Regions from separate parts of the Homo sapiens genome. Here all the other regions are linked to region 1. Evidence: fine-mapped expression QTL. A gene starts in region 1. Each other region holds a variant in brackets. All regions are shown on one strand. Distances are between the middles of the regions. Region 1 holds the start of PACSIN2 (protein kinase C and casein kinase substrate in neurons 2). Region 2 overlaps PACSIN2 (protein kinase C and casein kinase substrate in neurons 2). Region 3 overlaps PACSIN2 (protein kinase C and casein kinase substrate in neurons 2).

Evidence for each region.
Region 2: its variant is fine-mapped to the expression of PACSIN2 in nucleus accumbens (GTEx, PIP 0.97).
Region 3: its variant is fine-mapped to the expression of PACSIN2 in whole blood (TOPMed, PIP 0.91).

The regions. Positions count from the first base shown.
Region 1 is chr22:43,010,420-43,020,691 of GRCh38, forward strand. It overlaps PACSIN2 (protein kinase C and casein kinase substrate in neurons 2), which reads right to left and starts at 4,730. Exons shown (of 11, transcript NM_001184970.3): 1 at 4,602-4,730. RefSeq lists enhancers at 4,332-5,035, 5,018-5,217 and silencers at 4,458-4,527, 4,648-4,697, 4,708-4,897.
Region 2 is chr22:42,941,447-42,951,718 of GRCh38, forward strand. The region is part of intron 1 of PACSIN2 (protein kinase C and casein kinase substrate in neurons 2); the gene reads right to left. Among named protein-coding and RNA genes, the nearest start is that of PACSIN2, 69 kb to the right of the region's middle. RefSeq lists silencers at 465-691, 3,651-3,730 and enhancers at 5,221-6,113, 6,114-7,005. The variant A/G (reference allele first, on the strand shown) is at 6,033.
Region 3 is chr22:42,875,216-42,885,487 of GRCh38, forward strand. PACSIN2 (protein kinase C and casein kinase substrate in neurons 2) reads right to left here. Exons shown (of 11, transcript NM_001184970.3): 6 at 9,171-9,346; 7 at 6,969-7,089; 8 at 3,833-3,954; 9 at 1,673-1,795; 10 at 922-1,118. It overlaps LOC101927393 (a long non-coding RNA gene), which reads left to right. Exons shown (of 3, transcript XR_001755575.2): 3 at 1-315. Among named protein-coding and RNA genes, the nearest start is that of ARFGAP3, 23 kb to the left of the region's middle. RefSeq lists enhancers at 6,079-6,653, 6,654-7,228, 7,229-7,802. The variant G/A (reference allele first, on the strand shown) is at 4,751.

The DNA.
Region 1 (10,272 bases):
AAAAGACCGGCCAGGCACGGTGGCTCACGCCTGTAATCCCAGCACTTTGGGAGGCAGAGGCGGGCAGATCACGAAGGTCAGGAGATCAAGACCATCCTGGCTAACATAGTGAAACCCCGTCTCTACTAAAAATACAAAACATTAGCCAAGTGTGGCGGCGGGCGCCTGTAGTCCCAGCTACTTGGGAGGCTGAGGCAGGAGAATGGCATGAACTCGGGAGGCGCAGCCTGCAGTGAGCCAAGATCACACCACAGGGCACTTCCAGCCTGGGCAACAAAGCGAGACTCCGTCTCAACAACAACAACAACAAAAAAAGACAAGAAAGGAAAAGAAAAAAGACCTTATTCTAGGAAACAAGAAAGACTCTATGGTGCTTTAAGTTTTATTAAGCAAACAGATGAACATGCATTTATGGGAATAAGCACAATTCAATAGGTAACTTAAGGAAAGGTGGTTTTTATTTGTTTTATGTGTGCTTTTCATCAAAATGTCAAAACTTGTGCTCTTTGGTGGCCACTGTCCCTCAAGTAGTTACCTTTGGAACTGCAGAGATACCAAAAAATGATGTATTGTGCAGAATAATTTGAGAATTCTTTGAAGCCTGTCTCCAGTCCACAGACAGAGCATACTCATCTGAACACTAAAATTCTGCAGAAATTCCTACAAAACTATCCCAAGAACCACCACTGGGACGCATCTGGAGTCTGTCTGGGGCAGGGACGAATGATACTTTCTGGTATGTGAGGGATCAGTGCCCTGGCCATAAGGAAAGACTCTACCTGTGGAATGCAAACTGCCTTCGTAACTAAGGCATTGCTGCACTGCCCTCAGGTATGCAGCTACCATTCCAAACAACCTAACTGGAAAAAAACTAAGCCAGCACTATTGCTCACATGAATGTGGTCATTAATCGCATAATCTACAGGGCGGCCTCCACAAAGCTGCCATTACAATCTGATGGCAGATAAAGCAGGCCCGAGTCAGCTGGGAGGTTCACATGAAGGTGGCCAGAGAGCATCTGGTAAATGCCACTGCGAACTCTAAACACAAGGTGCCATCACTATTATTAAAGAAACTTTTCGATCTGTTTGATATTCCACAACATCCGGAATCATCCACTGATAACCCCTTCAGAATCAGTAAGCCTGAGCATGACGCCCTTAACACAGCACAGACTTTCAAGGTATAGAGAAGAAACAAAAGGCAAGGACATCTGCGAGGCCGAGGCGGGCAGATCACTGGAGGTCAGGAGTTCCAGATCAGCCTGGCCAACACTGTGAAACCCCATCTCTATTAAAAATACAAAAACTAACCAGGCAAGGTGGCAGGCGCCTGTAATCCCAGCACTTTGGGAAGCTGAGGTGGGCAGATCACCTGAGGTCAGGAGTTCCAGATCAGCCTGGCCAACATGGTAAAACCCCATCTCTATTAAAAATACAAAAACTAGCCAGGCAAGGTGGCAGGTGCCTGTAATCCCAGCACTTTGGGAGGCCAAGGCAGGTGGATCACAAGGTCAGGAAATCGAGACCATACTGGCCAACACGGTGAAATCCCGTCTCTACTATAAATACAAAAATTAGCCAGGCGTGGTGGTGGATGCCTGTAGTCCCAGTTACTCAGGAGGCTGAGGCAGGGGAATCACTTGAACCTGGGAGGCAGAGGTTACAGTGAGCTGAGATCGCACCACTGCCTCCAGCCCGGGCGACAGAGCGAGACTCTGTCTCAAAATAAATAAATACATACATACATACATACATACATACATACATACATACATACATACAAACATACAAAAACTAGCCAGGCAAGGTGGCAGGCGCCTGTAATCCCAACTACTGAGGAGGCTGAGGCAGAGGAATCATTTGAACCTGGGCAGAGACTCTCTCTCAAAAAAAAAAAAAAAAAAAAAGCAAGGACAAATGCCCCTCTGCTCCCACTCCAGAAATGCCTGGCCATCAGAGATGTGGATGGGTATCCAGGATTAGGGAAAAGTTCATGTTATCTCCCTGCAGAATGCTATGTTGGTGGAAATCCAGAATTTTTTTTAAATATATGCATACTTTTAGATTTATTTATTTTTAAACAGAGTCTCACTCTGTCACCCAGGCTAGAGTGCAGTGGTGTGATCTCAGTGCACTGCAACTTCCATCTCCCAGGTTCAAGCAATTATCATGCCACAGCCTCCCAAGTAGCTGAGGCTGAGATTACACGTGTGCACCACTACGCCAGACTAATTTTTTTTTTTTTTTGAAACAGGAGTTTTGCTCTTGTTGCCTAGGCTGGAGTGCAACGGCCGGATCTTGGCTCACCGCAACCTCCGCCTCCTGGGTTCAAGCAATTCTCCTTCCTCAGCCTCCCAAGTAGCTGGGATTACAGGTATGAGCACCACCACACCCAGCTAATTTTGTATTTTTAGTAGACATGGGGTTTCTCCATGTTGGTCAAGCTGGTCTCGAACTCCCGACCTCTGGTGATCCGCCCGCCTCTGCCTCCCAAAGTGCTGGAGATTACAGGCGTGAGCCACCACGCCCGGCCTTAATTTTTGTATCTTTAGTAGAGACGGGGTTTCACCATGTTAGCCAGGCTGGTCTCTAAGTTCTGACCTCAGGTGATCTGCCCGCCTCGGCCTTCCCAAGTGCTGGGATCCCAGGCGTGAGCCACCCCGCCCAGCCTAGATTATTTAAATATCACATCACAACTTCATATACATTTGAGATTAAAAGTGATAAAGTTCCAAGTCCCAAAGCAGCACGAGCTAAGGATACCATTTCCATTCAAATGAGTTGTTATTCTTCTCCCAAAAAGTGGATAAAGAGTGCAGACCTAATCACCCATCTACTTCTCTGTGTTATGTTACTTTCCCAAGTAATAAATATCACCAGCCTAATGGCCACTTTCTTTAAAGCTTTAAGTCTATTGTCAAAAGAAAAACACACCAATGTTTTTGATGTAGTGGCCTCATATCTCAACCAGCATAACCTCACCAAAGAGGCTACCAAACTCTAGAATTAAGTTTAAGTCCACACAAGTGAAAGTTTTCCAGGTGAATCAAGAGAGATCCAAGTTGCACTGGCACAGCTTCAATGTCTCCATGAGGAGGCTGCATGCAGGCAGGCTCATGAATCAAGTGGAACGACAACATCTTGGGCAAGAACAGGAGGGCTGGCATTCAACACTGCCTGCCTGGTCGGTTCCCTTGCCCTGGGCTCCAACCTGGCAATCCCAGGAGGGTTAAAACAGAACTTCAGCACACGGGAATAACCGCAGAGGAAGGCACCGAAAAGGAGGGAAGGAAGAAGGTGTGAGCTCACCATCTGCAGCTGAGGTTCAAACTCTTTGAGCTGGTTTCCTGATTTTCATCAAGACAGCCAGGCAGTATTTGGTAAACAGTGTACCAAGTAGCCCTGGAGACTCTGAGCAGCCTACCCCCTTAACCACAAAAACACCGGACAGGCGGAGGGAAAAAGAGAAGACAGGATCCAGGAATGGTGCACACACCCAGCCAAAGGCCACCTTCCCTCAGGCACCCAAGCCAAGAGTGGCATCCCCAGGTCCTGTTATACGTCAAAGGCTGCAGCCGTGTGGGCCCCAAAGCAATAGCACAGCTTGCTCCCCTGACCAACCAACTCCTTCTGAAAAGAAAATCGACCTTCTCTGATGGAGCCGAAACCCAATGAATCAATGAAATTCAACAGCAGCAGCAATCACTACCTCTCCAATTGCGGACCTCTCAGGATGCCTGGCCAGGCTTGAAAGCCCTAGAGGAGTAAGGAGTTCGGATTTCTGATTCAGTGAGTCTGGGGAAACTCTGAGGAGGGTCACAAGGGCAAACCTCCCCGGCCTCTCCTGCTTGGCCCCAGCCCTAGGACGTGCTGCGGTAAGGGCTTTGCTCCCCCCGCCCTACACACACACACACACACACACACACACACAGACACACACACACCACCCCCCCCCCCCCGGGACACGGAGGGTGGGAAGGAAGGAAATGGAGGCCGCTCATCAAAGCGCCCGAAATCAGCGCACCCGCGTGTGTCCTGCGTCGCCCCCCAGGCCACCCCAGGACTAAGCCCTGCCCTCTCACCGGCGCGTCCCAGCCACGCCTTCCCTCCAGCGTTGCTCCGGCACCCTCGCCTAACCTCTGCACGTCTCGGATTCCCAGCTTTCTCCTAAATCGCGTCCCTCCAAAAGTCGCCCCAGCTCCCCCTTCTGCAGCTGTCTACACCTCCCCCACTCATTAGCAGCTCTTAACCCCCGACGGCCCTGCTCCTGCACTTCCCTCTCCAGCAGGCCCCGGACCCCGGAAAACTGCCCCGCTCCCACAGCGCCGCCCCCATGGGCCCCCGCCCCTTCCCCGAGCCGACCCCACTCGCCCTCGTCCTCCCCAAGATGTCTTCTCCAGGCGCCCCCCGGGGCCCCGAGCACTCGCCCCCTCCCACAGAGACAGGAAGTTCCGCGCGGCCCGACCCGCTTCCCTCAGGGCGCGGAGCTCGGCGCGGCGGCCCTGACGGGGCGCGGGCCCGGCCGCGGACCAGCGCCCCCGCGTCCCGCCCGCGGCGCCCCAACCGTCGCGGCGACCCCTGACCTCGGCGGCCACTCACCTCCCAATCCGTCGCACACTCCGTTCAGGCTGCCACGGCGTCTCCAGACCCAGCTCCGGCCGGGCTCCCGCTACCGCTTTTGCTCCGGCAGCACTGCCCAGCCCTGCCCAGACCCCTGCGGCCGCTTCTGCCGCCAGCCGCGACCGCACCGCCCCCGCCGCTCCCGCTGGGCTCTGTCCATTGGCTACCGGACACCGAGCCCCGCCCCACAGCCTCCCCGGCGCCCCCGATTGGGCCAGATGAGTAGAGAGGCGGCTCACCCCGCGTGAGGACGAGGGAAAGCCCCAGGACGCGCATTGGTGACTTCTCCTGTCAATCAAACGGGGAGTGCCTATTTAATGGGCTGCGAGGGTGGCGCAGATTACTCTCCCAAAGCCGCTCGCTGGTGGTGGTCCTTGAGACGCGCTTCCCGGGGCTGGAGTTTTGCGGTTTCGTCGGCATCCAGGGGTAAGAGGGCGCGGCAGGGCAGCACCGCACCTGACCGGAAGTTCAGGGAAGGTAATCCTACAGTCTTTCAGAAAGTTTCCTCTCCCAAGGGACTCAAAGAAGCTAATGTCGTTAGGAGCTCCTCCGACTTGCGCCAAAAGCGTCATTCCACGTGGACCCGCTTAGTTTAAACGGGGGGTTGGGGGGGCGTATGTTGCTGCTCTCTCTAATAAAATATATTTGGATGGCAAGGCACCAGGCAATGCACACGCATTCTTTCCAATTCTCACAATCACCTTGCATGATAGGGTATTAGCCCCGTTCTGCAGAGGGAAATACTCTTGAAGGAAAATGGAGAGCACTTCCTGAGCACTGTCCTACGCGCTGTCCAAGCACTGCTTCATGTCATCCAGGTGGAGAGGATGGTGAGAGGAACCCCAGGTGAGGGGTGAGCCAGGTAACTTGCTGGGGGTGATGTGGAGTAAAGAGAGTAAATGGCAGAGCCAGGATTAGAAACCCAGGTCAGCCCAACCCTTGAGAATAATAATGATGACTGTGTAGCACTATGGGAAAATGCTTAAACTAAAACGTTAAAAGAAAAAGCCAGATAGAGCCAGGCATGGTGACATGCACCTGGAATCCCAGCTTCTTGGGACGCCGAGGCAGGAGAATCGCTTCAGCCCAGGAGTTTGAGGCCAACCTGGGCCACATAGCAAGACCCAGTTCTCTAAAAAGTAAAATAAAAGAAAATAATAATAAAAGAAAAAGCTAGATACAAAATGGTAGAAACTGTAGAATTGCTGCTACATATAGATAGGTATGAGAAAAGAGTCCACAAAGAAATCTAGTGGTTGTTTACTTTCTAGACTGCTCTGTGGCATTGTCCTTATGACAATAATTGAGAAAGAAACAAAAGAACCGGCTAGGCACGGTGGCTCACGCCTGGAATCCCAGTACTCTGGGAGGCCGAGGCGGGCAGATCACAAGGTCAGGAGTTTGAGACCAGCCTGGCCAACACAGTGAAAGCCTGTCTCTGCTAAAAATACAAAAAATTAGCTGGGTGTGGTGGCATGCACCTGTAATCCCAGCTACTTGGGAGTCTGAGGCAGGAGAATCACTTGAACCTGGGAGGCGGAGGTTGCAGTGAGCCAAGATCACGCCACTGTACTCCAGCCCTGGCGACAGTGCGAGACTCCATCTCAAAAAAAAAAAAAAAAAACCAACACACAGTGCCAGGACAAACCACTGCCAAGAAGTCTCTCCTCATTCTCCAGGACTGAGCCAACAGGGACCTCTTTGCCACCCACAATACCTGTGGACCATTTGTATAGATAGAACTCAGCCATCAGCTCTCAGCACTTTCATATCTGGGTAAGTTCCGCTTACATCGCAATTCCATGCCCTATAAAAATATAGAGCCTTGTCGGGCGCTGTGGCTCACGCCTGTAATCCTAGCACTTTGGGAGGCCGAGACGGGCGGATCACGAGGTCAGGAGATCAAGACCATCCTGGCTAACATGGTGAAACCCTGTCTCTACTAAAAATACAAAAAATTAGCCAGGCGTGGTGGCGGTCGCCTGTGGTCCCAGCTACTCGGGAGGCTGAGGCAGGAGAATGGCGTGAACCCGGGAGGCGGAGCTTGCAGTGAGCTGATATCGCGCCACTGCACTCCAGCCCGGGCAACAGAGTGAGACTCCGCCTCAAAAAAAAAAAGAAATACAGAGCCTCTCCCAAATTTTTGGGGGTTTTTGTTTTGGTTTGTTTGAGACAGGGTCTCACTCTGATGCCCAGGCTGGAATGCAGTGGCACAATGATGGCTCACTGCAGCCTTGACCTCCTAGGCTCAAGCCATCCTCCTGCCTCAGCCTCCCAAGTAGCTGCGACCACTGGTGCGCACCACCATGCCCAGTTAATTATTTTTTAAAATCTTTGTAGAGACAGAATCTCGCCATGTTGCCCAGGCTCGTCTTGAACTCCTGGGCTCAAGCAATCCTCCTGCCTCATCCTCCCAAAGTGCTGGGATTACACGCACGAGCCACTGTACGCAGCCTCTCCCAAGGTTTCTGAACAAGCGTCTGTCATCAGGCCTCCTGCTCTTCCACACACCGCATGCTCACTGGTCTCACCATCATCCCCTTATCCAGTTGCACGAATCCCCCTGCACTCCAAGCACTGCTGAGTCTAGCAGGGGTTCCTGAAGACTGGAAGCTGGAGAGAGGCATCAAGCCTGGCACTGCCCAGCAACAAGACAGGATGCCTCGTGAGCCTTTTTGGCTGCCTGGCCCCAGGAGTCACCACCTGGTCACGTGACCCATGCCACACTCTGGCCACTTCACATGCCTTTGGTTTTCTGCACTCTCCCCCTCTTCTTTTCTCTCCTCCTCCTTCTCAGGACAAACACAAAATTCCTTTCCTTGTCTTGCACCTAGCAGCTTGACATCATTGCCTGAACTCTTTGGGCCTTATACCTTCTGTCCTGGCAGCTTATCAGGGTATTTTTCCAAAGATAGCTCCCCGTTGCCACATGTGAGCACCCCAACTTTGTTCCCCACAAACATTTCACAACATTCCATCCAGCCTCCTCCTTCAGTCATATTTGAACAGGCCTGGAGCCCAATCCTGCCTCCACCCCTTTTCAGCCAAGGGGCCTTGGGCCAGTCACTGCAGCTCTCTGCACCTCTGTGTCCCCTCCGTGATATGGGGATTAGGAAGAGCAACAGGGCTGTGGTAAGGAGTCAAAGCATGGAGAGCTGTTCCGGGCACACGGCTGTGAATGCTGTGTCTGAACGGTGGACATGTGGTCATGCCTTGTCAGCTGCTCCTTCCTTCCCCCAAAATGTGACCATTGCCACAGAGTGCCTGGGACTGAGACTGACCGGCTTTAGTTTAGTCCTTTATTAACCATTTCCCACTAAGCAGCCTGGATAAACAGACAGTCTGGGCTAAAACATACTTGCACAGAGAATATCATATTCTCAAAAAATTTAAAACATCCAGATATAGTTGTATTGCTGAAAATACAGTGATACGTGTATTTTCAGTGTGATAAGTACAGTGATTTATGGATTGTACAGTGATACATGTCTTTCAAGAAAAAAAATCAAAATCAGTTACAGACATTCACTCACTCAATAATTCCAATATTTAGAACGTGCCAGGCAGGGAAGGTGGCTCGGGGTGGACCTGGGTCCTGCTGATGTTCCTGGAAAGATCTGGCAAGGACATAGAGTTTAGAACAGAAGAGGGTGCAGTGGTATTGAAAACAGTGCTGTTTACCTGAGCCAAAATGAGTGGAAGATTACAGAGAGCAAAGATCAGGAGGCAAGAACTCCTCCTGTCCAGGAAGAGAGGAGGGTTCCACTTGGCTGCATTGCAGGCACAAAGAGAAGCCAGGGGAAACAAGGCAGTAAGGCAGCCGAGCGGCAAGGAGCTCTGCGGCCCTGGCAAGTGACTTCACTACTCCAGCCCTTGGTTTTCCCTACTGTAAAACGGGGATAATCACAAAACCTAGTGATTGTTAGCTTAGAGAATCTGTGAGGATTTGTGAGTTCGCTCTGCAATATTCAGCATGGGGCCTGGCACAGGTCATTGTTCAGTGTGTTCAAGGACCCCTGATTTTGTAAAAGTGCTTCAGGGTATATTCACTTTTTTAAATTTTTAATCGTGTCTAAAAGAAAAGCCTGGGCGTGGTGGCTCACGCCTAAAATCCCAGTACTTTGGGAGGCCAAGGCGGGAGCATCACTTGAGTCCAAGAGTTGGAGACCAGTCTGGGCAACATCATGAGATCCTGGTCTCAAAAAAAAAAAAAAAAAAAAAAAAAATTAGACAGACGTGGTGGTGCAGGCCTGTAGTCCCAGGTACTCAGGAGGCTGAGGTGGGAGGATCACTTGAGCCCAGGAGATTGAGGCTGCAGTGAACCAAGATTGCACCACTGCACTCCAGCCTGGGCAACAGAGCAGGACCCTGTCTCAAAAATAAATAAATAAATAAATAAATAAATAAATAAATAAATAAATGGAAAACAAACCTAAGAACACGTGCTGTGCACCAACTGTTAATATTTTGGCCATATCAAAGCACTAACTATGGCGGCTGGAGGAACACATTTCTGAACATACCTCTGAATGACATGCTCACCTGCCAAGTACGTGTAAAGATCTGAATTCTTTGTAAATGTGTCATTGATTAGGAGGCAATTACCCCAATCTCCCTGGCTTTGTTTTGTTTTGTTCCATTCTGGCTGCACATGTCTGCTCACGTCAAATTGTACCAGCAAGTACAATGTTCCACTCCTGCCATGCCCGGCTGGAGCCTGCTCCCAGACAAAGGTAGGTATGGAGCAGCATACAAACAGGGCTTCCCAAGTGGGCACTGGGCACTGCCCAGGTGCCCTGAATTGGGATCAATCCATTCTTTTTTTTTTTTTTTTTTTTTTGAGACGGAGTCTCACTCAGTCGCCGAGGCTGGAGTGCAGTGGCGCTATCTCGGCTCACTGCAAGCTCTGCCTCCCGGGTTCACGCCATTCTCCTGCCTCAGCCTCCCGAGTAGCTGGGACTACAAGCGCGTGCCACTGCGCCCAGCTAATTTTTTGTATTTTTTTAGTAGAGACGGGGTTTCACCGTGTTAGCCAGGATGATCTCCATCTCCTGACCTCATGATCTGCCCACCTCGGCCTCCCAAAGTGCTGGGATTCCAGGCGTGAGCCACCACGCCCGGCCATGGGATCACTCAATTTTTTTGCAAGTTCTTCAGTTGGTTCTACTTCTATCTTATTTTACTAAGTGGAAAAGCTCATTTGGAGAATTCGGGTTTACAGTGTTACCATTTGTACCAAAGTGGGCCAGTGTCAACAATTTCAAAGTAACTGTTTTAAAATTTGGAATGAAAACCTAACAATGCCCAGGCTTTATGTGATACATTTTAAAGTATTTTCTACTCTGGGAGGAAGATATAAACTCCGGCAATAGTCCCTCCTTGAGTCCTTGCTATGCAGGAGGATGAGGAGGTCCCAGAAGCCAACAGATTCCATTCTGAATCCAGCCAATCATCTTACCTTTTGCCAGCTCCTAATTAGATAAATTAAAAGGCATCCTGCAATTGTAAAACTAATTTTTTTTAAAGTTATTGGATGCAACTGCTGTGAATCCAGATTGCCTTAGTGTAAGGTAAAATGAGATACTGAGGCTACTTTTTTTTTTTTTTTTTTTGAGACGGAGTCTCGCTGTGTTGCCCAGGCTGGAGTGCA
Region 2 (10,272 bases), 69 kb before region 1:
AGTCAGGAGTTTCCAACATTCAGCCAGAGTGCTTTCCAAAGCAGGTGCATCATTTGACATTCCCACCAGCAGTGTGTGACAGTTCCAATTTCCCATATCCTCACCAACACATGTTGTCTTTTTTATTGTAACCATCTTAGTGGGTGGGAAGTGATATCTCATTGTGATTTTGATTCGTGTTTCCCTAATGACTAGTGATATTGGGTATCTTTTCATGTGCTTATTGGCCATTTGTATACTATCTTTGAAGAAACGTCGGTTTAGATCCTTTGCTCATTTTTTAAACTGGTGTGTCTTCTTATTGCTGAGTTTGGGGTTTTTGTTTTGTTTTGTTTTGTTTGAGACAGAGTCTCACTCTGTCACTCTGTCACCCAGGCTGGAGTGCAGTGGCGCATTCTCGGCTCACTGCAACCTCTGACTCCTGGGTTCAAGCGATTCTCCTGCCTCAGCCTCCTGAGTAGCTGGGATTACAGGCATGGGCCAACACGCCCAGCTAATTTTTGTATTTTTAGTAGAGACAGGGTTTCACCATGTTGGCCAGGCTGGTCTCGAACTCTTGACCTCAGGTGATCTGCCCGCCTCTGCCTCCCAAAGTGCTGGGATTACAGGAGTGAGCCACTGTGTCCGGCCTTTATTATTGAATTTTAAGAGTTCTTTTTTTTTTTTTTTTTTAATTCTTTCAATTTTTTTGGTAGAGACAGGGTCTCATGTTGCTCAGGCTGGTCTCAAACTCTTGGCCTCAAGTGATCCTCCAAAGTAATGGGATTACAGATGTGAGCCAATGCACCCACCCAAGAGTTCTTTATGTATTCAAGGTATCTTTATCAGATATATGATTTGAAACTATTTTCTTCCATTCTGAGTTGTCTTTTTACTTTCTTGATAACATCCTCTGAAGCACAAAAGTTCTTAATTTTTATGAAGTTCAATTTACCCACTTTTTTCTTTTGTTGATTGTTTTGGTGTCATATCTAGGAAAACACTGCCTAATCCAAGGTGACAAAGACTTATGCTATGTTTTAAGAGTTTTACATCACTTATTATGACTAATTTTTTTAAACGTTTTTTTAATTAAAAAAGCTTTACAGATTTAGCTCTTACATTTAGGTCTCTGATCCATCTGGAGTTAAGTTTTATATGTGGCATGAGGCAGAGATCCAAATTCATGCTTCTGCAAGCAGATATCCAGTTGTCCCAGCGTCACTTGTTGAAAAGATTTTTCTTTCCCCCATTGAACTGGCTTAGCATCCTTGTCCAAAGTCAACTGACCATAAATGTAGGGGTTTAGTTTTGTTTTCTTGACTCTATCTCATTTTTCCATGTCTATCCTTATGCCCGCACCACACTGTTTCTTGAATACTGTAGATTTATACATTTTTGTAAATTGGGAAGTGTGAGCCCTCCAACTTTGTTCTCTGACTTTTCAAAACTGTTCTGACTATTCTTGGTCCCTTGCATTTCCACAGGGATTTTAGAATTGGCTTGTTGCTTTGGGATTTTGAAAGGGACTGCTGTGACTCTGTAGCTCAATTTGAGGAGTACTGCCATCTGAACTATGTGAAGTCTTCCAGTCCATGGATGTAGGATCTCTTTCCATTTATTCAGGTCCTTTTAAATTTATTTCAACAATGTTTTGTAATTTTCAGAATATAAGTCTTACACTTCTCTTCATAAATTTACTCCTATTTTATTCTTTATATACTATAATAAATGAAACTGTTTTCTTAATTCCATTTTTTGAATTATTCCTTGCTAGATTATAGAAATATCGTTATTTTTGTATATTGATCTTATATCCTACAACCTTGCTGAACCTGTATATTAATTCTAAGAGTTTTTTTGGTGATTCCTTATGATTTTCTTTATATAAGATCATGCCATCTTTGAACAGAGAGTGTTTTACCTTTTCCTTTCCAATCTGTATGCCTTTTGTTTTCTTGTCTAACTTCGAAGTTCCTGGTTAGACTCTCCAGTACAATATTGAGCAGAAGGAGTGAGAACAGACATCAAGGTCCTATTCTTCTGGATTGTAGGAAGAAAGCTTTTAGTCTTTCACTGCCAGCCCTGGAAGTTTTGATTAATACCCTTTATCCAGTCAAGTTCCCTTCTGTTCCTGGTTTGCTGAGTGTTTCTGTCATGAAGAGGTGTTGCTTGGGGTTGGGTGTTTTTTCTTTCTTTTGTTTTGTTTTAATGTTGCAGAACAGGCATCACCAAGGACCTAATTAACTTAGATTAAAACCACCTGACATTATATATTTTGATGAATTTCAAGTGTCATAAGGAGCCAAATAAAATCCATTTTAAGCAACTCAAAGAAAAGCAGCTTATTCTCTGGCTTTGAGAAAAGAAATTTGTGATAATAAGGTATCAGAGGAAAACATGAATGTGTCCAAAACTTACGTTAAACTTTTGCACAATACAATATAGAAAGCAAAGAAAGAAAAAGACACAATTGATAAAAATCTTATTACCTAAAATACATTAAGAGCTGATATGAAGACAGAGGATCCAATTCCACTGGACAAAGAAGTTGCTGGAGAGGAACAAACAGAAGAGGAGATGGCTGGGCAGAGACAGGAATGCTCACTAAGTTCTACCTGCTAAGCCAGACTGTGTTGGTAGTCCTGGCCACATCAGTAGTGAAAAGTCCACACAAAGCCCCCAGCCTCTCCTGTCTACTGTGTTGTCCACTGAGCAGGCCTCGAGTGGCAGCTCTCAGAGAGTGCTGTCTCCTTAATCAGCCTGGCCTGAGGGACTCTGTGGAACCGCACCCCCAGCCATCCTACAAGGGACACACAGATCAAGCGAGAAAGACATTTGTGTTAGGCTAAGTCTCTGAGACTTGGGGTTTGCTTGTTACTGCAATGTAACCTAGCTAAATATAATACAACAAATTCCCATGCAGGAAAAAAAAGCACAACTTCCTTTAAAATATGGAAATAACTTGTAAAATAAGGAAAATTAATATGACAATGCCAGTTTTGGTGGGGCTACAGGAAAACAGAAATGTACTCTAACATTGCTAATAGGCTTCATGGAAAAATCTGAAAATACAGAACAAGGCAGATAACAGTTACCAACCTCTGACCCTTAAGTCCCACTCTGGGGAACATGCCCCAAGCAAATAAACTCAAAGAAAAAATAGCTTGGACAAAATGTTCATCACTGCAATATTTATAACAGCAAAAATTGGAAACGAGTCAGCTGCTCAAAGCTAAGAAAACAATGACGAGTTGACAGAAAGGACACAACACATCCGTTACAGAGAACTAGCAGGTGAGCTATTTTCCATCCGAAATTGGGTATAAGCAAAAAAGGCAGAGTGGCACAGCGCATCCACTACACATCAACTTATAAGGTGAGGACTGTAGCTGGGCGCGGTGGCTCACGCCTATAATCTCAGCACTTTGGGAGGCCAAGATGGGTGGATCACCTGAGGTCAGGAGTTCAAGACCAGCCGGGCCAACACAGTGAAACCCTATGTCTACTAAAAATACAAAAATTAGCCAGGTGTGGTGGTACGCCCCTGTAGTTTCAGCTACTCAGGAGGCTGAGGCAGGAGAATCACTTGAACCTGGGAGGCAGAGGTTGCGGTGAGCCAAGATCATACCACTGTACTCTAGCCTGGACGACAGGGCAAGACTCGTCTCAAAAAAAAAAAAAAAGAGGCAAGGGCTGTGTCATCTCCGTATCCCCAGTGCTTAGCATGAGGTAGATGCTCAAATGAGTCTGCACAGTGACTAGATGTACGCACCGGCAATTACCAAGCTGACAGAAGCAAAATCAGTGGGGGACGAGGGCAAGAGGAGTCTTTGGGGAGGGAGCTGACACTCACCAGCTCATTTCTGTAGTGGCTGCAGTGTGCCTTCTCTCAACCTCCTCTGCCTGTTTCCTGGCTGCTGGCGCTCCCCAGGTTCTGTCCCAGGCCCTCTCTCTTACGTCTTCTGTGCCCACACACCAAACCACCTTTAACCTCAAGCCCCCTGATCTGCTGTCTGGCCCAGACCCGCATCTCTGCCTACTGGATGCCTCCACTTGGCCATCACACAGTCCTTGCAAACTATCCCCTTCCCTATGAGCCCACTCCTGTTCCTGGGTTTTCTACGTCAGAAATGGTCCCACCATTCATTCACCCAGCTTCTCAAGCCAGAAACTCCTCTTCTTCCCACACCCAACCCCCCTCACCACTACCACATTCAATCAGCTTCCAAGACCGGACTACATCAGCTCTTCAATATCTCTTGAATCCTCCCACTTGGCTCTGTCCCCATGATGATAGCTACCTTCGCTAAGGCCACCATTGCCTCCTGCCTAATCCTTAACAACGTCCTAACTAACCTGCAGCCACTTGTTTAGTCCCCGACTCCCTTCATTCTCCATGACATTACTGTGACTCTACCATGGTGGTTGGAATGTCTTCTGGAAAGATCAGGTTTTGCCTCTACTCAAACTCCTCCCCCTACTTCCTCCCGAAGCCAGCAGGGCCTCCAGGCTGTAACTACTGCTCCTCCAGCCTCACCACTCACACCACACTCCTGGCCACACTATACACGCTCTGGCCACCGTTAATCACCTGTGTCTACCAACACAAGCACCACACTCCTATCAGCTCCACCCCTTCACACACACTGTTCCCTCTGAACAAATGCACAAATGAATTAGAGGAGGTGGAGGAGAAATCAACTTCTCATAGCCAAATAGTTTCAAAAGCAAAATAATAAGAATCCTTCCAATTACTTTTATAACATAAAGAAGTGTTTAAACTGCATGTGAGCATAACATACCTAATATAATCCAGGGTAGGGTCTCCAGAAGTATGGGTACCCCAAACCTGCCACAGTCTAAGGGGGAAGTAAGGACAAAGCTAATAAAGCCAAAGGATTTGTCCCTGGGGGCAGGAGTGGAAGCACTCACTGACTGCCACTGCATCCAGGAAGGAGGCACACATTGGCCTCTGAGCCTGGCGAGAGCAGCAATGTACCACGGGCTCACCCACTACTTGGGAGGCTGAGGCACAAGAATCACTTGAACCCAGGTGATGGAGGTTGCAGTGAGATCGCACCACTGCACTCCAGCCTGGGGGAAAGAGCAAAACTCTGTCTCAAAAAACAAAAAGAACAAGTGCTCACTGATTTGCCACCATGTCCCCACAGCAAGAAGCCCCAGTTACACAACACACAAAGCTGCCTGCCCAGGACTGATGCAGTGTTATTCCAACATAATCTTAGGATCCCTTCACACAGGCATGCGCACACACATGATCCTCTCTCGTCCAGCTGGGGATCAGGACTTCAGAGCACATGAGGACGCGTCAGCTCATCTCTGCCACCACTTCCCTCGCTTCTGGTGTCCTCACATCCTAACCACAGTATTTAACAACTGACAGATGGCCACAAATACAGGAGACATGTGGACCATGTTGCAGGGAGCTGGGCCGTGGGTCCGGGTACCTGCGCTTCCCCTCTGATGCCTGAAATTCTCTGTGCGGCTCCATTCCCCTTCGTGCCAGTCTTCAGGATCATGCCAGAGCAGCCACGGCCACATACTTCCCGACGACGCCTCCTCTCCGTCAGAGGCACCTGCCCAGTGGGACAGCTCTCCCTTAAGCTGCAAGTTTTCCAACTCAAGAGACGCACTTAAACCCTAAAAAAGAAAACTCACACAGGCCCAGATGAGACAGAAAGATTCTCCTGGCATAAATAGAAGGAAAAAATATAGAATGGGTCAGGAGGCTGCCCTTTGTTCAGGTCAGAAAATAGGGGCATTCACAGGCGGCAGAGTGAGCAGGAAGGAGGGAGAAGAGGAATGCTCCAGGCCACCTTCGAGGTCTGCTGTGCCAGGTTCCCAAGACAGACAAAGAGTATTATTGACAACATGCATGAGTCAGAGTGGCCCCAGGTCAACGCTTCAGCTTCTTTCAACCCCTCCACTTTCAGGCAGCCCCTTCTAGAAGCAGGACTTCCTGTCACACAAAGGGCCTCTGTGGCCCTTTGTCCACAAAAGAGGAGCGGCCTCTTCCCATGCTTGGAGGC[A/G]GCCGTTTCAGAGGCTCTTCCCTACCCAACAGTCTGATGAGTGGAATCCTCAAGAGGAGCTGAAGCCCTGGTCTGAACAAGCTGAATATGAGAGACAGCAAGAGGGGACAACACCAAAGAACACGCTAGCCTGGATGCACAAATCTAGAAGGTCTCTGAAATCTGCATCTATGAGTCTTCACAAGACCCCTGGGGGTGGGGGGGGGGACCTCTTAATGATCCAGCTGCCTCAGGCAAAATACCTAAGAGCTCTGCGCCTGACACTGCTCATGGGTAAAATAGAATCCAATCTGCCTGACAGGTTGCACGGATCAAATGGCATCCGGCTGGGACCTGGCACAGTGCCTGGAGTATGGGGACCTTCCACAAGCATTGGCCAGGGAGAAGGTGACTGGGGCCAGGCTCCACGGCAGCCCAGCTCCTGAGCCCGTAAGCCAGGTGCCCCCACACTGGGGCACTCCATTCTCACAGGGTCGATGGACACTTGAACAACCTCCTCCAACACAGCGGCCAAGAGCTAGGAAACAGTTCTGCACAACATGCTACGGGGACACATAGAGGGTCCAGAAAGGGTGCCCAGGGCTGATGTTTCAGTGGGAATTCTTCAGCAGGAGCAGCAAGGAAAGGCATCCCAGGTAGAGGAACCTGTGTGACAAAGGGGAGTTAGAAACCAGCCCAGTGCAGGGTCCCGCTGGTCCTGGAGGGCAAACCCTGGGAAGCTGCTGTGGCTGTGAAGGAGGGGAGAGGGGACTGACAAATGGCAGGGCGCTGAAGATCAGACACCAGCTCAAGTCACTAGTTACTCCACCACAAGAGTGACTTCTGCTCCATTTACCTACCAGCAATAAAAAGTAGAATGTCCTGATAAAAGCCCACCATAAGAATGCTAGGTAAGCATGGACAAGAAGAGGTCACACCCATCAGAAGCGCTATCTAGAAGTGAACTACCTAAATACCTTCTCAACCAGTACTATAAATATGTGCCTTTGAAGTTTAAAAAGCCACACGAGCTGGGTGTGGTGGCACATGACTATCTATAGTCCCAGATACTTGGGAAGCTGAGGCAGGAAGATCACTTGAGCCCAAGAGTTTGAGGCTGCAGTGAGCTATGATAGTGCCTGTGAGTAGCCACTGTACTCCAGCCTGGGCAACACAGTGAGATCCCATCTCTAAAAAAAAATTTTAAGTACAAACCATGAGAGGATTTGGTTTTCAAATATTTTCTGGGCATCTATGCACTCAACTATGGTGCCGCTTTCTCAAGAAAATATTCTATTTCATTCAAAGGTATCAGCTAGAGCCAAAGCACTCTACTGTAGAGAAGAATATGGAGCCAGTTTCGTGTGACAAACTGATAAATGAATTCTAACTTGACAGTGCTTTTATTTCTAAAAAAAGTTCACATAAAATGAACTAGCCAGTAATTTGGAAAAACAAACAGGGAACTCAATTGTCAGGCAACAATCTGAAACTAATAGGCTTAAATCAAGCATAAAATTAATAGCAAAAGTTTCCCTTAAACAAGGGGAGTGGGTCAGGCATAGTGGCTCACGCCTGTAATCCCAGCACTTTGGGAGGTGGAGGTGGAAGGATTGCTTGAGCCCAGGAGTTACAAACCAGCCTGAGCAACAAGGTGGGATCCTGTCTCTATAAGGACAAAACATTTCTTAAATAATAGGTGCACATTTTAACTTCTAAGCTACCTTCTTACCAGCAAAATGGGAATAAAGGTGGCTGACCTACACAGAGTAGGAATTTAAATGACACATTGTATGTGAGTGCCTGAAAATGTCAGTCTCCAGCCTTCCCAGCCTTCTTGCTCCTAGTATGACTCCTCCTGGCCTCTCTGGCAACTCCCACCCCACACAGGGAGGATATGGCTTTGGCAAGCAGGACTTACACACCCATTCTCAGCTGTGCCACTGAGAACTCTAGAAACACAAAACAAAGACCTTCAACGTTAAGCCTCATACACACACGCGCGCGCACGCACACACACACACATTTTGTGATGCTAGCTGCCTAATAAACATTTCCAGTGACCACTTATAAAGGGGAAAAATTAATGACAATTCTTATTTATGATAAAATGCCGAATTACAATATACAATAATATTATCTGAGAAGCCCTGAAGAAAATGTCTTGGTTACTCTCTTGACTTCATTACAATACCCAATACCCCCACTACACACACACATACACTCACACACACACACTCACACACACTCTCTCACACACACACACACAGGCAGAAAGAACCTGTCCTTCATAAAAATTTGTCAGTTTGGCTGTCTCAAGACATAGCCTGTGTCCCAAATTCTTAAATATTTTCAATAAAATGTTTAATTTATTCTAATAAACTGAGTAAATATCAAGCCAAGGAAATTGATTTTACAAATTATTTTACATCTATCTCTCCCAATATTCTAAAAACATTTACTTTCTGAGTGCCAGAAACCTTGCTAAGAGCTAGGGGATGGAAATGAAAACAAGTGAATAACACCATGCAGGCCCTGCGGTCCAGGAGCTCACAGCACACTCAGCCCTTCATACCCAAGGGTTCCACATCTGTGGATTCAACCAGTCAGGAATCGAAAATATACGGGGGAAAGAAGTGGGTAGCTGCATCTGTACTAAACATGTACAGACTTTTTTTGCTTGTCATTATTCCCTAAACAATACGGTATAACTATTTACATTGTATTTATATTCTATTAGGTATTATAAGTAATCTAGAGATGATTTAAAGAATACTGAAGAGTATACATAAGTTATATGCAAATACAACACTATTTTATATCAGAGACGAGCATCCATGGATTTTGGTATCCTTTGGAGGGTCCTGGAACAATCCTCCAAGATACAAAGGAACAAATTGTCTAAATACTAGGAAAGATAAGACAAAGTCATACCAGATTAGGCTGAGAGGGAGGGAGGGAAGGGAGTGGGCAGGTGGGCAGGCACAGCATTTTGGTTGAGGAAAGAAGGCCTGCAGCTGCACAGCCTCCTAGGAGACAGCATGAGGTGGACTGACGATTCACGCTGCTGTCCAGGCACAGGCTCAGGAAGGGCTCTGAAGGCCTGTGCAGCCACCATTGCTGAAACTGACTGAAAACAGCAGCCCCAGCCAACTAGTGCAAAGTTAGCTTACAGTAACATTCAACGCCATAAGTAGCATTCTTACGTCTAAAAAGCTGAACACTTGGGCTTTATCTAAAAATATATGTTTAAGAGTGGGTAATTACCTAGAAAAAAAGTCCAGATGGCTATGTACCAAAAATGTGAATTCTTCCATTCAATGAAATGTAATGCAGCCTTACTTACCGTATGCCAGGCACCTCGCTGGGCCTGTGGGGTCCCGGGATGGGTAGAAGTGACAAGGCCCCTGTATATATTCCAGTAGGGGTCAGGGGATTTCAAAGCCACACCAGTAGGTAATGTAGCGGCAGACAGCATTAAGGGCTGGGGGAAAGCATGAAGCCAAGTGGGGGACAGAGAGTGACAGGGTCTACCTGGACATATGGTGGTCAGGGAAGGTTGTCCTGAGTCTTGAATGAACATCTCTGGGTGGTGGAACATGAAAGTCTGGGCTTTTGCATATCTGTATCACTTAATTGTTCTGCCATAAGAATACACTGATTGAGTTGCTTTTGAAAATTCAAAAGGAAGATAAGGCAGCACGTGGGCACCTTCCCTTTAGGTAAGCATGAAATCCAAGCTTTTCTGGTAAAGGAATCCACGAGCCTTATCTTCTAGTCACGATAACCGGCCTGCAGTATTAACTGCATTCTCTCTAGACAAGTAATTCCGGACAGTCCTGCAAAGCACCCAATTGGTGCCCTTATCACCCTGTGCACACCCGTGGTGCCCAGGGCTCAGCCTCCTCTTCTCTGTGCACACTAGTTTCCTGGGTGACCCTCTCCCTCCTGTGACCTAAAATTCCATCCACGTGCTGATGCCTCCTCACTCAGCCTCTCCCTGAGCTCCAGATCCGGCATGGCCCGAGCTGCTGGCTCAGCATCTCCCCCTGGGAGGCTCACGGGCCTCTCCGACACACTGGCCAAAACCCACCTCTTGCTCCTGCATCCCCCGGTTGGGCTCCTCCAGGACACAGCTGCTCAGGACAAATGCCCCAGTGTCATCCCTGACTCCTCTCCTCCTCTCATGTCCACATAACATCACCTCTACCTCAAAACAGAGCCAGAATGTGGCCGCTTCACACCACCTCTGTCTCAGTTA
Region 3 (10,272 bases), 140 kb before region 1:
CATGGCTCACTGTATCCTCTTGGGTTTAAGTGATCCTCTGCCTCAGCCTCCCAAGCAGCTGGGACTATAGGTATGCAACACCACGCCCAGCTAATCTGCTACTTTTGTTTGTTTATTTATTTGAGACAGGATCTCGCTCTGTTGCCCAGGTTATTTATTTGTTTGTTTGTTTGCGACAGGGTCTCGCTCTGTTGTCCAGGTTGGAGTATAGTGGTACAATCATGATTCATTGCAACCTCAATCTACTGGGCTCAGGTGATCCTCCCACCTCAGCCTCCCAGAGAGCTGGGACTACAGGCATGTGCCACTAAAATTAGCCCAGCTAATTTTTTTTTTTTGACACAAAGTCTTGCTCTGTCACCCAGCCTGGGGTACAGTGGTGTGACCTTGGCTCACTGCAACCTCCACCTCCCAGGTTCAAGTGATTCTCCTGCCGCAGCCTCCTGAGTAACTGTGATTATAGATGCCCCGCCACACGCCTGGCTCATTTTTGTATTTTTAGTAGAGACAGGGTTTCACCATGTTGGTTAGGCTGGGCTCGAACTCCTGACCTCAAGTGATCTGCCTGCCTTGGCCTCCCAAAGGTGCTGGGATTACAGGCGTGAGCCACCATGCCTGGCCTAATTTTTTGTATTTTTTGTAGAGACAGGTTTTGCCATTTTGCCCAGGTTGGTCTCATACTCCTGGGCTCAAGCGATCCTTCCACCTCGGCCTCCCAAAGCTCTGGGACTATAGGCATGAGCCACCACATCCAGCCAATTGGCTGCTTTTGACAATGAAGCCAGGGCACTGGGGAAGGGCCTGCAGTGACTCACAAGTGAAACTAGCAAGAACTTTTCCAGACTTAAAAAACAAAAAAGACCGCCCACAGCCTGCAGGTTGGAAGCCCTCCTCCCCTGGATGCTGGGGGAGCCCACCTACCAGCCTTGAAGCTCAGCTCATCATGCTCCTGCCCCTCATAGTCATACAGGGCCCGGACTCGCACTTCCGTCCCCGAGGTGGCGTCGTCGTCGAATGGATTCGAGTCCCCATTGGCATCCGTGGAGGAGAAGGGGTTGTTAGACTCATCGTCTGACCAGTCGGTGGGATAGCTCTGGGTCTTCTCGTAGCTGCTCACACTGCAAGAAAGGGGAGGCCACAGGGCCCTCAGCACAGGGCGGCAGAGGGTGTGAGGCCCCCGCCCCGCAAGGGGAGGGCACTGGAGCCTTGGGGCTCAGGGCTGAGGGCTCCTTCCGAAGGAGCACAGGTGGAGCCAGTGCTAGTGTGAGTTCATGCCATCCACACTCATCCTGAGCCATCAACAGGCTTTCCAGGGGCAGGCGGCTGGAGATGCCCACAGCAGAGGCCAACCTGGGGCCTCACTCTCTAGTCCCCAGCACAGACTGCGCGTTGTCTGTTTTCCTGTCATGGTGCTGCTAGGGCCTTGAAGGGTTAACAGAGGACAGAGAAAAAGCAACTTAAGATTGTTAGCTGTGCCCTCCCCGAGGAATGGGGGTGCCAGAGAGCCTGTGCCAGAGAGCAGGTAGTGGGCCAGGGTGCGGCACGCCAGGTGCCCACTTCCTGCAGAGCTCCGTGCATTGCCGAGTGCCGAGGGGTGAGACCCCTGGACAGAGAGAGAGGAAGAGAGACAGAGTGAGCGCGGTGGGAGCAGAGGAAGCATTTGTTCACCAACTTTTTGGCCTTAGTGTCGTCCTTCTCACTGACGGTGCTGCCCGTGTCGTCCTCATCCTCGAAGGGGTTGTAGCTGGACTGTGACTGCGCAGACTGGGCGGGGTTGCTCGGGACATTAAGGGTGCTATGGAGAGAGAGAGCTTTCAGGGGATCCCAGCTCTGCAGGGGCCCGTGAGGGTCCTGGCAACTCCTAGCTGCAGGATCTCAAGAGACAAATCAGCTCCTCCTGTGACCGGAGGGGACCGTGGTGTTTCAACAGAAAGGTTACTATGGCAGAATGCGGGCAATACTTCAGCTGTGAAACACGGTCCAGGAGCCTAGGAGAGGACTTGGTTTCCCTTTTCCTTCCTTGCACCTGGAGACAGTCCGTCCAGAACAGGGGCCCTGGGGTGGCCCAGGGGCGGGTGACAAGCCACAGCTGGAGCAAAAGTCGTTTCCAGGTTCAGGGCTTCTCCTCTGTCCTGACTCCCACCAATGTGAGCTGGGGGGGTCAAAAAGCCCCTCAGGGTCTCCTCTGAGAGTGACAGTGTGGGAGGGGCCGGCTCCCATGGATGAGTGGGAGAGGGCTCTGAGCTCTTCAGCCCACACGGCCTCCTCCTGACTACTAAGGGGTTCAGGGCTCGCTCTTCTGCTCTGTGGAGCTGAAGCCTCCAAAATCAGGGCCAGGGCCTGCGGCACCGTCTTTTCTAGATAGAAAGAAGATTCCTTTGGTGCTCCAGAGGGAAAATCCAGTCGTGCAACTGCCTACTGTTTGCCAGGCCCAGTGTGGGAACCAGAGAGATCTGGGCCAAGCTCTGCCTGAGGGCTGGGAGCCGGGAGCTGAGTTACACACTACGAAGACCACAGGCAGACCATCAAGCAATCCAATCAGACAGGCACCAAGGGCCCTGGCACCCCACCAAGTAACTGATCCTAGGACCGGGCTACCCTGGCCAGCAGCACCTTCTACTTCCAAGACCAGGGCCTCAGGGCACAGGCCCCCAAAGCACTGGATGGACTGCTCAGCCTGAGCACCCACCACCCCAGAACCAAGGAAGGGAGGCGAGGACATGCCTCCAATGCCACCAGGGTGATCCTGAGTGGCCAGTAACTGCCTCATCCACTTCAGCCTGGCAAGTGGTACTTGACCTAGGCCTGCTGGAGGCCAATATCCAGGCCACATGTCTGAGCTCACCGGCCCTCCTCCCTCCTTGGCACCTTTCTCTAGCAGACTGTTGTGAGACGGCACTGGTGGGGGCGGCTGGATTGTGCAGCAACCCTGGCCAGCCCAGGGCCCCCAGGGTCTCCTCTGAGGCAGTGTTTCTTCTTTCCCATTCCCACCCCCAAGCATACAGGTGCTGGCCTGATCCCTGGGACAGGCACTTACTGCCGAGCCCACCTGCCCAGACAGCGTGCAAAGCAGCGGAATGACGACAGCCACACCTGCTGGGGAGCCTGGGTGGGGGCTTCAGTGCCTGGGGCTGCAGGAAGGCCAAGGGAACCTGGGCTAAGCCTTCTTAGGAAGCCCCCGTATGAAATGACTATTACTGAGTGTCACATGGAGGCCTGTGGGCAGGTCCTATAGGAAGACCTCCTCTAGCACACACTTTCCAGAAGGTTCTAATGACCACAGTGCCACCCTTATATCTCTCATTTTCAGCCAATGACTAAGTCAGAAATAACCAATGCTCCTAGTGAAGAGGTAATTTGGAAAGGAGATGCCTGGCAGTCCTCTCCTGTCCCTCCCTCGACTGGCGCCTGCACACAATACAGAGTGAGCATGAACCTCGGCAGGACCTCAGCTGCCTGAGGGAACCAGGGTGGCACCTCCACCAGTGTCCGGGCAGGGCGGTGCTATCCCTGGGGACATGAATGCCAGCCCTGTCATCAGCTCCTCCCCACTCAGGTCTGAAGCTCAGGGCCAAGCCTCCCTCTCTGGATCTGTCAGCAGCTCTGGCACCAGGCAGGAAGACGACCTTCCCTGGAGATGCCCCTGGGCCACGGCCCACAGAGCTCAGGAGCCCAGGAACCTCCCAGGTGTCCAGGCTGGGCCACGGCCCACAGAGCTCAGGAGCCCAGGAACCTCCCAGGTGTCCAGGCCGGGGCTGCCCTGGACCATGCAGATTGCCCAGGGCCCCCACCATGGAACGGCCTCTTTTGGATGGAGGTGGCGCCCACTCACCTGCTGGGCTTACTCGGCAGAGACTGGTCGCCTGTCTGGTTGATGCCCGTCAGGGTGACGCCGTCAGTGGCCTTCTTCTTCTCTCTCCGGCTGAGGGTTCGATTCAGGTCTGCGGACCACTCCTAGGCAACAGGTGCCGAGGGAGAGAAACCAAAGGTTCACTACTTGCTGGAAGCCACGTCTGTCCTCAGTTCCTGCCCAGCGAGCCTGCAGTTGGCTCTGTGCATCTGATGTGTAGACTCAGGGCCCCAGCTCTCCCTGGTTTCCCAGAAGACCTCAGGCTCCCCATGCCCCACTTATGAACCCAAACGACCTGAGCCCCTCCTCACTGTTCAAAGCAGGGGCTCATCAGGGGATCTGGAGGCTTGCACCTCTACAACCACCCCCAGGCCATGCTGCCCACCTCCCAGAGGACCAGCGGGGGTGGCGAGGACCAGGGCAAGGTCCGGGGCCTCCTGTTCCTGACCCCACCCACCAAGGTTCTCAGTCCCAGCCCCCTCAGGCCAGCATGGGCCCCTGTGGCCTCCCCAGATGTCTGCTGAGCCTCCCAAAGTAGACAGGAGCCAGCCTCTGAGGCACCTGTCCTGAAGTGCTGAAGATCCTTTGCGTCGATGCCCTAAATTGTCCCTGGGCCACAGGGTCAAGACAGTTGGCTTCGGAGACCTGAGCAAGCCTGCCATGTGGAAAGGCAGGTGCAAATAAAACCAGGTGCAAATAAAGCCACTGCAAATAAAACCAGGGCTAGGTGGCTACCCGCTGACAGAAGGGGCAGGCAAGCAGACTCTCAGTCTCCAAAGCGCAGGGCCCTCCCCAGTGTTTTGCTGCCCTGGGACTTTTCCTCTGTGATCTGAGCACATGCTGGGGCTAACGAAGCAAAGCAGAGTACGCTCCTCCTGGAAGCCTCACGAGTTCTCGGGT[G/A]GCGAACTGGCTTCACCAACCGCACTGAAAATGGACTAGGGCAAAACCATGAATGGAGACTGTGTCTTGATTTTCTAGAAGAGTCTGTGCATGCCCGCAGGTGTTTAATGAGCTCTCCTTCCCCCCATCTCCACCAGTTACCAGACAACTCTGATTAAAACTTGGTGTGGCTGAGTCCACGGCTCTGCTCACACGTACTTACAGAACTTTTGGGTTGGAAGCCAACTCAGAAGCATCCTGTCTAACCTGTCCATTTGTCAGATTAGGAAACTGAGGCCCAGAAAGGCAATGTGATTTGCCCACGCAGTGTGGGTGGCAGACTTGGGCCCGACCCCAAATCTGGGTCACCTTTTCATCTATTAATTATTTTCTGACCAAAATAGATTGACTGAGAACTCAATTGGAACCTCAGAGTTCTCCACAGTGACCTCTGAATATAAATTCATCCTGATTGGGTGGCTTCCAAAGGCCAATGGGATCAACACCAAGCCGGCACTGATGGGAAGGGCCGGCTCTCAATACCCCTGACAGCAGCGCAGCCTCAGCTGAACTGCTAGGAGCCTAGCGGGGGCAGCACACCCACCCATGCGGGCCACAGACACCCTGCATGGCGTATGGCACTCTATGAGGTAGCCGAACGCAGACACTTACTTCATCCTTGTGGCATGAAAAATAAAAACAAAGAATTGCATTAGAGAAAGGCATGGTCCCGTAACAGCTGCAAATGTGCGCAGAATGAATGCACAGGGGCTGGTTCCCAGCCCATGGACCCACAGAGAGAAGGACCCCCTAGGCTCTGGCTGGGACACCCTCCAGGAGACAGACTGTCAAATAGTCCTCCCCACTGTGCCCCTCTTTGGGTATAATGGGCACCTCTAAGGGACCCAGGCGAATTTCACAGGTGGTTTCCTGTGCCACTCCGGGAGCAGCAAATCCTCGCTGTGTCTGAAACCCCAGCTGTGCACAAAACACGTCAGCCAAGACTTCCTGGTGTGTGGCTCCAGAGGAGAGGCTGGGCTTTGTGCTGTCCCCTCTAGGGCCGCTTCCAGTCAGGACGGCTCTGGCCCTCCATGCTCTCTCAGTGCCTCTGTGGAAGGGGCACAGCTGCTCTACTGCCTCCTACTGGGAGCAAGTCCTGGGGCTGGCGCAGGGGAGTGCTCGGCAGCAGGGCCCACACTGTCATTTGGAAAAACCTTCCTGTTAAGGGCCATAAAAGAAGTGCAGGAGTAAGGACTGACAAAACTGCAGGCTATGAGGCGCCCAGGAGGTTTCTGAGTGGTGGGCCTGGGTCAATAGCCCTGCGTGGACAAAGTCACCATGTTCCCTAACAGCCCCCGACAGGAGATGGGTGCTCTTGTCATTCCCATTCCACACGTGGGAAAACTGAGTCACAAAAAGGGCGAATAGTTTGCTCAGCTTCCCACAGGTGGTCAGAGGTGAGCAGAATCTGAATGCAGCCCGGGCTCTGGCCGCTGCTGAGTCGGGGAAGCCACGAGGCCCACGCCCACAGCAGAGGTAGTCGCCCTCAGCATCCCTGCTGGGGCAGCTGACGCCACGTGCTTAAGCCTCAGGGGCACCAGGACCTTTGCCCACTGCCTTCAGGGTGCCAGGTGGGGCCTAGTGACCAATCCAAGGGCTAGGTGAGTCCTGAGATCCCCAGGCCCTTGCATTTCGAATGTAAAGATAATGAAAGCTTAGACCCACATGATGGGAAAAGAAGAACATTCATTTTGAATCAGGATTCACTGAATTTACTGCCTGGAGTAGGGAAAAGTCCTTTGTTGGAAGGGTAGGGAGGGCTGCCCACTGAGACCACCTCCCCTCCCCTGGCCCACCGTGAGGGGAGCACTGTGGCTGCTCCCTTCCTGGCCATCCCACAGGGTGGGTCAGGGACCTGAGGTCCTGTGTGCCTACGGCTCCTGAGACTGACTAGGAAGGAAGGGAATGCCAGTGGCCAAAAAGTGACAGTCAAACATTCCCAACTAGAGAGGACATAACCGCGACTTCAGGAGAGGTTCAGAAGGCCTTCGGTAATGCCTGCAGCCCCCCAGGACTCTATGCCAGAACTTGGTCTGTACTATAGCTATGCCTAAAGGCTGCCTGATAAACAGGGCAAACACTAACATAGAGTCTAGAATGAGAAAGACATCATCTAGCAACTCTGTGGGCCCAGGTCCTCTTCCAGGCTGATGAGCTCATGGGCACACCCTCCTCTTACCTCAAACTGCGGCCAGTTCATGGCCATGCCCGGCCCGTGATTGGCTCGGAACCACCTCAGGTCCTCCACTGCATCAGCTGCTCTGATGCTCTGCTCCAGGTCATGGTAAATGGCTTTGTAGCTAAATCAGAGAGAAACGTGGCTCTTTTAGAAGGCAGGGGCCAGCTACCCTTTGTCCCAGCCCAGTGCCAGCCACAGCAGGTCCCGTGGTCTCTGCCCTCTGTGAGTTGGTTTCACAGACAGAGCCAGAACACTCCTCCCTTGGCTCAGGTGGAAGGTCACGGGCCGCCACGTGCACAGATGGCTCCTGACAAATGAGCTTTAAATCAAACCAGCCAAGCAGGTGGCAATGACTAAGCCCTGCTCTGTGTCACATATGCAAAAGGCACCAGCAGGTGGGCTGTGTGGGCCACCACTCTGTGTGGTCCCATTTCACCAGGCCCAGAGTTGAGGAAGAGAAAACTGGAGGGTGTTAGAAAGTACCCCTCCTTCCTCATCTCTGTCCAGAAAAGCTTTATACCCAGACTTGCCAATGCAGAGCGTGAAGATGACCCGGTGCTGAACACACCCACCACCAAGACGGGGTGGGGGCTGCCTTCCGCCTGGCAGCCATCATCGGCTCACCTTCCTAGGAAGCTGCCCTGCCAGGGAAGAGTATGGATCACTGCTGGACCTGATATTTTCACTTATAATCTTTATGGCTGGTGAGTCATGTACTTTCTCTGGGCCTCGGTTTCCTCCTCCGTTGAGTGGGCATGATCCCCTCCATCAAGGGTTGAATTGTGTCCTTCATAGGAGACATGCTGGAGTCCAAACCCCAGTGCCTCGGAATGTGGCCTTATTTGGAAATAAGGTCTTTATAGAGGTAATCAAGCTAAAATGAGGTCACTAGCAGGGGCCCTAATCCATATGACTGGTGCCTGTATTAAAAGGGGGAAATCCAGACACAGAGACAGACAAGCATCCACACGATGGGAGTCACTCCACATGCAGAAGAGCCTGACACAGGCCAGCCTCACCCTGCTCCTGCCAGCAGAGCAGCCTCGGGCAAGTCATTTAATCTCACCCAGCCTCAGCTTCCTCATCAATAAGATGGGGTCAGTGCCACCCACTTTACAAGACTATCATAAAAATGGAATGGTGGCAGAGCAGCAGCGGTGCAGTAACTGTTGCTTTTGATGATTGTTACACAGAGGGAGACAAACGGAATGTGTCTCCTATTAACAGCAAGCCTTGACCCGTGACGCATCCCTACACGGTTCTGCTAGATGGATGACAGTAATCCACGTCCTTGACTTAGCTGGGACCTCTGCCCTGGTGAAGGCATCACAGAACCAAAGATGAGGAAAGCACAGAAGAAACAGCACAGCTTCCATATCACAATTCAGAACCAAGTCTCAGAGGGTATGTGCTGTCCTGGGGGCTGAGAGCCACTAAGCAGTCACCTGATCACAAAGGGCCTCAAAGAAAGACTGTCCCAGGCACGACCAGCCCAGAAATGCCAGATTCACCTCCAGTGGATCTTACATATGCCAGCTGCGGCCAGGTGCGGTGGCTCACGCCTGTAATCCCAGCACTTTGGAAGGCCGAGGTGGGCGGATCACAAGGTCAAGAGATCGAGACCATCCTGGACAACATGGTGAAACCCCATCTCTACTAAAAATACAGAAATTAGCTGGGTGTGGTGGCGCATGCCTGTAATCCCAGCTACTCGGGAGGCTGAGGCAGGAGAACTGCTTGAAACCAGAAGGTGGAGGAGGTTGCAGTGAACTGAGATCACGCCACTGCACTCCAGCCTGGGGACAAAGCAAGACTCCGTCTCAAAAAAAAAAAAAGAAAAGAAAAGATATGCCAGCTGCCTTGGTCCTAGCTGTGGCCCCAGAATGGGCAATCTCCATTCCCACCCAGACCTGTACATGGAGTTGGCAGAGTGGGCCCGGCCTTATCTGCTTGGGCCAGCAATTGGCCGGGTCAACCAGGCCTTCCAGAGGTCCAGCCGGCCATGCCTGCAGCTGCAGAAACACTCAGCAGAGGGGCCCTCCCTGCCATCCAGATTACAAAGAAGCAGGAGGCCCTGAGGGCGGTGAGGAGACCTCCTGATGAACGCGCCATCCCAAACCTGGGAGCAGCATCTGAGTTTGCTTCAAAAGCACTTTCCGTTGACTTCAATGACGTGTGTGTTTTAGCTCAAAGGAAACTTACCCAGCCACATTGGACAGGTCTAGGTGCTTCTGAACCTCCAGCAGAACCTCCCGGAAGAAGCGAAGGCGTTTCTCCTCGAACTGCTGGCACTGCTCAAACACCTGCTCCATGTTCTCCATGTACTGGGGTGTGCCCTGGTCGAGTTCCTTCAGGGACTTCTCATACTTCTCTTTGGTCTAAAGGAAAATCCAGGCACAAGACAGAGGTTCATTTCCATTTAGCCCTTGGCTCACCCTGCCCCTGGAGTGTCTCAGGCCTTCCCAGATTCCAAATGCAAAGAAAAAACAGGAGCTCTGGATTCTGACAGACTTCAAGTTCAAGTCCCAGTTCCTCCACTCCTGCAAGGTGAATCACACTCCTGCCATCTGCCCTGTCTCTCAGCTGGAGCAAGGCCCAGACAGGTAGATGCCGGCAAAGGGCAGTCTCCCCAGAACTCAGTGTGTATGGTCTTGAGCGTGCCACACGCCCATGTCCTCTTCTCCCTGTGGGGAAGGGCTGTGCCTGGCTACCCTCAAGCCTCAGATCTGGCCCACAGCAAAGGTGGGGCTGGGGCTGAATCCTGCAGCTCTCTTGGAGCCTCACTGTCCTTTATCAGATGAGGACATCTCTCCTTCACAGTGTTCTGATATGTACATGATGGGGTGCAGGAAGAAGGCATTCAAAAAAAGTCCTCCTTCTCTTGTCTTTCAGCCCACTCCATCCCCCTCACACAGCTGCTCCCTCCCAGATTGTCCCAAGAAGGGGTTTTACAAGGCAGGAAATGTTAAAAAGCAGGTGTGGCCTATCTCAAGAATATCCAGGGGCAGCTAGAAAACGTGTGAAATTCCTAAGACATGGCTAAAGTGGGCACATTCATCTGGTGGGGATGTGCCTCGAGGTCAATGACCTCACACTGGTACACACTTCCCCGCACCCCCTCATCTCAGCATGCAGGGCCACCAGTTTGGTGGCCAGGTGGTTTTGTTAGTTGGTGGGATCATGGTCGTGTTGTCCCCCTGGGGTGGGTGAGAGATAGCAGGGCTGGGGCCACCTATTTATTGCAATTCTTTCTACTATGGGGGTAGTCACGGGCTCCACTCAGGTCTAAGCTTTGCTGTCCCTA